2 separate regions of the Homo sapiens genome follow, and region 2 is linked to region 1. The links come from fine-mapping of genetic effects on gene expression. A gene starts in region 1. The other region holds a variant in brackets. All regions are shown on one strand. Distances are between the middles of the regions.

Region 1 (4,412 bases):
ACATAGATACAAAACCCTTGAACAAAAAGATTAACAACTAGAACCCAACAATTCACGAAAATAATAACTACAGCTCAAACAAAATATACCTGAGGAATAGAAGATTAATATGTGACCATCATTGATAATGAACAACAATAACAGAATAAGAAAGAAAATCTCATGATTACCTCAATAAATACAGAGAAATCTGGTCATACTCACTATCCATTCATGATTACAACTCTTCAATACTATGTCTGCAAACATCATACTTAATGGTGAATTATCCAAAGCTTTCTCTCTGAGTTAAGCAATTAGCTATCTCCACTTCTATTCACTATTTTACTATGTTCACAATTTTTCACTATTTTCACTATTTTACTGGCAGTCCTCACTAGTAAAGAAGAAGTAAGACTCAGAAAAAAATTAAACTGATTTTGTTGCAGACAACTTGAATGTGTTTATAAAAAATCCAAAGAACCTATGTAAAAATTAGACTTAAGTAAGTCAAGTTAGGCCATACTCAGGGGCTCACATCTGTAATCCTAGCACTTTGGGAGGGTGAGGTGGGAGGATTGCTTGAGCCCATGAGTTCGAGACCAGCCTGGGCAACATAGCGAGACCCTGTCTCTATTTAAATAAAAATTAAAAAATTAAAGAGTAAGTCAGGTTAGAAAGGTTCCTGGATAGACAACCAACATATGACAAATAATTGTATTTTTACCTACCAGCATCAAACACAAAATGAAACTTTTAAAAGACCCTATTGATTAGGAGAAAATGAAGGACTTGGGAGAGCCTCACTGACAAATAGAGCAAGTTTACAGGATTTAAGTCCTGCAGAACCACCACTGAGGTGACTTGGAGAGATACCTCTGTAAATACATCGCAAATATCAAATACCTGCAAGAGAGGACAGCTCTACTTGCCAGGATTCCTTATCCAGGTGTCAAAGAATGAATATTCTAAATATCTTCGTGTAGCCTGAGCATATATGTGGGTTTTTTTTAACCATTTAGACATAAGTTGGGGTGCATACTATGGATTCCTCAACACCTTGCTTTTTTTGACTTACCAGTCATATATCTGGAGAGAAATCCATTTTAGCAAAAAATATGTGTAATATATTCTTTCTTTTTAATTTTTTTTTTCTTTTTTTGAGACCGAGTCTTCGCTTTGTTGCCCAGGCTGGAGTGCAGTGGCGCGATCTCGGCTCACGGCAAGCTCCGCCTCCCGGGTTCACGTCATTCTTCTGCCTCAGTTTCCCGAGTAGCTGGGACTACAGGCGCCCGCCACCACGCCCAGTTAATTGTATTTTTAGTAGAGATGGGGTTTCACCGTGTTAGCCAGGATGGTCTCTGTCTCCTGACCTCGTGATCCTCCCGCCTCAGCCTCCCAAAGTGCTGGGATTACAGGCGTGAGCCGATGCGCCCGGCCTCTTTTTAATTTTTTAAACTTGCAGAAGAGTTGCAAGAATAGTGCTCTTTAGTGGGCCTTCACTCGGAATCACCAACTGCTGGCGTGTGGGTGCACTGGCTTTATAGTATGTGCTTTATCAGTCCCCTTCCTTCCTGTCCTCCTGTCCCTGTGTGCTTCCTGAACCGTTTGAAAATAGGTTGCATATATCATGCCCCTGTGCCCCGAAAAACTTCAGTGTGTATTTTCTAAGAACAAGGGCATCCCCTTGCATAAACACAGTACAATCTTATCAAATTCAGAAGATTCAACATTAATAGAAAAAACTATCTGCATATTATCCATATTCAAATTTCATCAATCGTTCCCATAATGTTCTTTTATGGCAATTTTTTTTTTCTGATCCGGTATTCAGTCCGGATAGATCTAGCTCCTGAATAGAAGTGGAAATCCTCGCTCCCCGGGGTGAGGAAATTCCCTCAGGGCTCCTAGGTGTGGTGTAGTCGCTGGGAAGGGGGAATGAGTGCCCAGAGCAGGCAGGGTTGCCGTAGTGTCCACTAACTCAGTGGCGGTAAATTTTTGTGCACATGTTAAGTGTGTGTGTGTGTATGTGTAATATATATATACACAAGAGAAACTGAGTGATGGAAGAAGGAAGAGAGGTTATATGTGTAGTTCATTCTCTGGAGCCTAATCTTTCTAAAACATTTCAGACAACCCAGTAACAGTGTCTCATGGCAACATGATAGAATCTTGAAGGTGAATGGAAAGGATTATGATGTACGGAAAATCCAAGTTGGAGTGGTGCCTGATACAGGTGAAAATCAGTTCGCAGCTACTGGAAGAGAGAGGAGCATATCAATTGTTTAAAACAAAAAGCCAGCGTTAACAGGCTCAGAGAAATGAAGTTGAAAGGAATAGATGTAGCTCCTGAATAGAAGCAAAAGTCCAACGTGGTTCCATTAAAATGACTTCTCAGCCGTCTCTCCCTGCAGATGACTTCGATATCTACCACGTCCTGTGAGCCTTGATCTACTACAGCTTTCTAGATTAGCCCAGTGGTGGGAAAGTCAAGCTCAGAGGAGTCAGGGGACACACACTGCATTCAGGAGGGTTCTCCCAGGTGTGACCCATGGAAGGTCCCCGGAAAGGAAGGAAGATTGTACCTAATATCTTGGCAATAAATACATGTCCTTCCTAAAGGGTGACAGTCTAGGACCTCCTGTGGTATCAGTGAGTAAAAGTGAAAATGACCATGCTTATAACAGTGAACACTTTTCAAACTGGCATAACTGTACTTAAAAGTATGTATGAGGTAAGGTCACTGTCTCATGGAGCCCCAACTTTAGATACAATATATGGAAAGAAAAATCCGAGAGGACATAGATACCAGGCTGCCTGGCACAATACAAAAAATTGTAAGAGGAAGCTCTGTGCAGGGAGAGGAGGTCCCGTTTGGAACCCTCAGTGTTCTCTCTGTGCAGGCAGGTCTGGGCAATTCACATGAACACTCTAATCCTGTAGCTTACTGGGAAGGACATCCTAGATCAATCACTTAAAAAAATTTTTCAGTTGTCATTTAGACGAACCTGTGTCAAGTAGCTTGCATGATACCTGCATAATCCTCACAACCATCCTATCAGGCAGATGATATTATTCCTATTTTATAGATGAGAAACGGACATAGAATCCCAGATCCTATAATTAATAAACGGCATAGTTGGGATTTAAACTAAGATCTATATTTTTACAAAGTCTGTGCTCTTTCTCCTCTCCGTGTATATGTGTGTGTGTGTGTTTATATGTATATAGCTATATACATACACATATACACATATGTGTGCTCTTAAGATATATATATTCATGCTCTTAATGTGCATATATTATGCCTTCAATATATATGCCATACATACATATATATACAAATATATACATATATATCACATATATAGAGACAATCTTAATATATATAGACAATCTTAATATATGTAAATCCAAATATCTTAATGGATAGGTATGTTGGGAGAGAGGGAGGGAGGTAAACAGATAGGTGGATATTCCTTTTTTTACATACCACCACACACCCCATGAGTAAATGACTACATCATTTAAACCTGACATCTCATCTGTAAAATGGGATGTAAAAATAATCGTTCCTGCCTTACACAATTGTTGAAAGATTTAATGGGAAAATGCATGTTAAGTACTTAAATAGTGCCAGGCTCACTACCTGATAGCTATTGTTTTATTAACTATTAATAATAATAATAATAATTTAATTACTTGCCCAGCAAGTTGTCAGTTGTCTTGCTTTAGTTTTAGAAGGAAATTTTTATCTGTCTTATTTGGCTTCAGGTACTTGTTCACAGTTCTGGTCTAAGTTATGTAATTTTGTTTTTAATTTAATTTATTTATGTAATAGAGACAAGATCTCACTATGTTACCCTGGCTGGTCTCAAACTCCTGGCCTCAAGCAATCCTCCCACCTCGGCCTCCCAAAGGGCTGGGATTACAGGTGTGAGCCACTATGCTCTGCCATAATACAATTTTAGACTCCAAGTTCCAATACTTCCTGTCCTTGGTAGGGAATGTGTTTGGAGGAAGTCTTATTAAGAACTCTTCTTTATTTCATAATATTAAGAGAAGCTTATTGTCATTTGTACATATTTTGTTCTCTCAAAACCCTTTCTTCCCATGTGGCACCAACACAGTGCAGAGTGCACAGATTACTATGATACCCTTCCAGTTAAGGAGGCTGATGGGAACCAGCCCCATTTTCAGGGTGTCACTGGCTTGTGGAACTTGGGCAACACATGCTGCGTGAATGCCATCTCACAGTGTCTCTGCAGCATCTTGCCGCTGGTGGAATACTTTCTCACCGGGAAGTATATCACCGCTCTGCAAAAGTAAGACCATTTGCATTCCCTGCAGCCCAGCCCCCACCCCCACTTCCCCACAGATGAGGTTAGAGAAGGAACTCTGGAATCCCTATTAAGAGATAAACAAACAAGTCA
Region 2 (4,412 bases), 50 kb after region 1:
ATGAATCCTCATTCATTAACATCTAGATTTTTAGCCAGGACTGTAAAATCCATTTCAAATACAAAGACTTGGAATTTTAGTAGTAGAGGAACCTGTTAAAGACATTTGGCTTCATTTCCATTTTACAAACAAGAAAACTGAGGCATATGGATATTTAATGATGTGCCTAAGGTCAAACAGCCAGAATGGTAGAGGTAGGACTATACTCTGGTCCAGCTACAACTGCTACATGAGTCTTCTAGGAAGGTAAGACCCACATGTTTATAATGCTGACCACCACAAAAGAAAGAATGACAGCTGCTCTCGAGTCAAGCTTGTACTTCAGAGAAAACTAGAGCCAGAAATTGAGAGTAGGAGACTACTGACTAAAATAATGTCATTCATTCCATTATTCTGGCATATTCTGCTCCTTTAAACATCAAAACAATGATATCTTGGTTGGTGTAATATGGTTATTTCATAATTTTGAAAATATTCAGCATTAAAAATTTTAGCAAATGTGTAATCACTTATAGAATGTTTATACTTCCAGAATCCTCAACTAGGACAATGGAAAAAACTAGCTTTTGTTAGAAAAATTTACACAAGAGAAATCTGAACATGTAAATTTGGAAATTAATATATGGAACTAAGAATCTCAATACAAGATAAAACATTTTTAACAGAAATGCTTTTTTGACACAAAAATTACAGCTCTCAATAAAAAAGTGCAACTTCCTTTAAAAAGTTTTTCAAATAATCAACTCAAAGTTCTTGAGTTACATGGATTATGTGATTATGTGAAGACCAAAGAATCAGCAAAAGATCTGGTTCGTGTTTTATAACTCTTGTCATTATTCCTTCTATTATAGGACTAGATCTTTTCCATCAATTGGAAAAATCTGGATGAAATTATTTCTGCACTTAATGGTATCGTTAACATATTTTATCATTAAAATACTTTAAAAATTATAAATTTTATTTAACACATAACTAAGTCTGTTATGCTTTAGTCTGCTGTTTGAATGTTACATTTCATGTGCTAATTTGTTTGAATTATACTGTAATATTTTTATACATTTTCACTTGATGCTTTGTAATTATTTAAAATTATAAGGAATTACATGAAATAGTGGTATTGTCATTTTGCTGTGGTACTGAAAACACTGAGGTGAACTAACAGTCTCATTTCTGCTTTATTTCCCTAGATCTACTGTAACCAGATAATCGCCCTTTGTTATGTGCCCATGGCAGGCAGTACAACAAGTATAAATTACACAGAACTTAAAATTCCCTCATTTAATTTCACTGAACAGGAGGACAAACTTTCCCCTTTACCGTTTCAGATGCACTAAAAGCACAGGTGGTAACTTCCAGATTTCTATCTTTTTTAGAGAATCCCGTCGAGCTCTGCAATGACTGCAGTAAAATCTGTTGTTATCTGTGAGTTTTTCTTCTTTGGAAAATAATCTAAGGCAATCCTGGCAGAAAAAAACAAGTAGCAGATACTCGTTAATTCGATTCTTCAATAATGTCAGAGAGCACCTATTTAGTTAGTCACTCTGCAGGCACCAGTGATTCAACAGCAATCTACACAAAAGAGTTCCTGCCTTCCCAAAGCTTGTGATCTAGTGAGAAGCATAGACAAGTGAACAATGACAGCACAGAGTGTGGTGAGTGCTACCTACAGTGTGTTGTGACAGGACACAGGAAAGCCCCTAACCTGGTCAATCAGAGAAACCCTGTTGGAGGAAATGACATTCTGGAGGTACTTTAAGACTAAAGGTATCAACAAGCTTTTATATAAGAAACATTGTTGATACATGGAAAACAGGATATTTATTTGATATCCCCATGTAAAGCAAATGCTTATGAAAAGTAGGCCTAAGTTAGTCAACAGACAACTTTCCAAATTAACTTATAAAACTTTTTAAAAACATACTAACAATCCTGAAATCCTGAAAGAATATTTAATAAAGGTATCTTTAAAAAAGAAATTTCTAATTCTTTCTAATCTACATAGGCCTAATTATAAAACAGAATTTATATTGAGTTTTACTGATAA[A/C]AGGTTTTTTTTTTTTTTTTTTTTAAGACGGAGTCTTGTTCTGTCCCCTAGGCTGGAGTGCAGTGGCGAGATCTCAGCTCACTGTAAACTCCGCCTCCAGGGTTCACGCCATTCTCCTGCCTCAGCCTCCTGAGTAGCGGGGACTACAGGTGCCCACCACCACGCCCGGCTAATTTTTTGTATTTTTAGTAGAGATGGGGTTTCACCGTGTTATCCAGGATGGTCTCGATCTCCTGACCTCGTGATCCGCCCACCTCGGCCTCCCAAAGTGCTGGGAGTACAAGGTATGAGCCACTGCGCCCGGCCGAGTTTTACTGATAAAATGTTTGTAAGGGTAAAGACCAGAAATTTACATCTCTATATCCATAAAAACAGCATTTTTATCCAATAAATCATTTTCTCTCTACTTCTTAAACTTACCTGTAATGTACATTTACTTGTGGATGCTAGTGGTAGAGACAAATACATGAAGGCCTCAAATGTCCTAGACTTTTTGTGACATGTGAGGCACTGTACTGTAGATTTGAATTGACCCTGAAAAAGTGCAACAATAATAGACTCATTGAGCTGCTTGTGTTTCTGCCAGGCATGTTCTGCAGCTTTAAAGTCATCGAGATGATCATTATTTTCTTCTTTATATCTCTTCCGATTATCAGCCTGGAAATAAAATGATTTAAGCTCTATATTAATATCTCAAAGAAAACATTTAAATTGAAAGAATAAAAGTGAATACAAACACTTGCCAGATTTAGAAACACCTGTAGTTCTCATAAAGGAGTTCTGATCTCACTGAGTGTGGCAAAAAATAATTCTAGCCAAAAATACCAAAAAAAACTCACTCACTTTATTGAAGGAATGTGACTTGTTGAAATTTCCCAAATTTTTATTTAAAAAGCTGAAAAGGGCCAGATGTGGTGGTTCATGCTTGTAATCCCAGCATTCTGGGAAGCCAAGGCAGGAGGACTGCTTGGGGCCAGGAGTTCGAGACCAACTTGTGCAACATAGTGAGACCCCCCCCTCCAATCTCTACTAAAAAAAGAAAAAGCTAAAAAGTTTGGTTTTTAGAAAAGATATCCCACATATAGCTGGGAATTAGGGCTACAACTGGACATATATAATTTTGTTGCCCTAGCCTCTCTCTCTCTATATATGTATATATGTATGTGTATATATATGTGTATATATGTATGTATATATACACGTATATATGTATATATGTATGTGTATATATATGTGTATATATGTATGTATATATACACGTATATATATATACACAAATATTTTTGTGTAGGTGTGTGTGTATATATATATATATCTGTTCAGTGGTTAAGAATGGTGACCCCAAAATATGTGAGACAAAAAGTGCTAAAAAGAAGTTGTAGTATGTAAATGGAGGGTGGTCATTTATGTATACATACATGCCTTTATAATAACTAGTCACATGAGTCATTTGGTTACATGGAGTAATTTTTTTTTTTTTTTTTTTTAGAAAGAGTCTCACTCTGTCGCCCAGGCTGGAGTGCAGTGGTCACTGCAATCTCGGCTCACTGCAACTTCTGCCTCCCAGGTTCAAGCGATTCTCCTGCTTCAGCCACCTGAGTAGCTGGGATTACAGGCACATGCCACTACACCCAGCCAATTTTTGTATTTTTAGTAGAGACGAGGTTTTGCCATGTTGGCCAGGCTGGGCTCAAACTCCTGACCTCAGGTGATCCACCAGCCTTGGCCTCCCAAAGTACTGGGATTACAGGCATAAGCCACTGTGCCCAGCCAAGTAATTCTTATTTTAGAAGGATGTGTAAGAATAAAGGCATGTTCCACTTTCAGCAAGGGACTGGGAAAAAGAAAAGAATAAGGATATGTACAATAACATATACATATTATATAAACATAACATACAATAAAAATGCTCAAACTGTCTATAATCTTTTATAAGATCATTTGTTTATGATTTTACTTTCACATACATGTGGGTCACAAACGCCAATAACTATTTTAACATTTGCAAATTTCTCAGCAATACTGCTTGTTAATTAGTAAATACCAACTGTATATGCTTCAAATATTACACTTACCTGATGTTTTATAATTCTCTTATACAGTCACTATTTGAATAAACAAGCACTGAACTATCACCAACTAGAATTTTAAACTGCTATAAAAATACAGTGCTACTGAGCAACCCTAAAGAGTCTCTGCAACTTAGAAAAATCAAATTTCTTACTTTATTTAGATCTTCATGGAGACCATCCATTAGGAACAGAAGCAATTCTTGTGAATCTTGCTGACTGTATCCTGCAAACTGGTCATTGATCTTCCCAATGGTGATTTTAAAGTCCTTTGGACTGATATATCTATACTGTCCTGT

Alleles and levels. Alleles are on the strand shown, and positions count from the first base shown. SD is a standard deviation of normalised expression in the study named.
For the expression in subcutaneous fat of the gene that starts at base 2,225 in region 1, allele C in region 2 goes with a higher level than allele A (small effect, 0.19 SD a copy in GTEx).

Evidence for each region. PIP is the estimated chance that this variant, and not a neighbour inherited with it, causes the effect. A credible set is the group of variants that fine-mapping cannot tell apart.
Region 2: its variant is the best candidate, but not a certain one, in a credible set for the expression of USP50 in subcutaneous fat (GTEx, PIP 0.83).

The regions. Positions count from the first base shown.
Region 1 is chr15:50,544,479-50,548,890 of GRCh38, reverse strand. It overlaps USP50 (ubiquitin specific peptidase 50), which reads left to right and starts at 2,225. Exons shown (of 7, transcript NM_203494.5): 1 at 2,225-2,418; 2 at 4,110-4,304. The coding sequence starts at 2,366.
Region 2 is chr15:50,494,137-50,498,548 of GRCh38, reverse strand. It overlaps USP8 (ubiquitin specific peptidase 8), which reads right to left. Exons shown (of 20, transcript NM_005154.5): 16 at 4,269-4,412; 17 at 2,465-2,701; 18 at 1,318-1,460. It also overlaps a transcript of USP50 not described here. Among named protein-coding and RNA genes, the nearest start is that of USP50, 50 kb to the left of the region's middle. The variant A/C (reference allele first, on the strand shown) is at 2,045.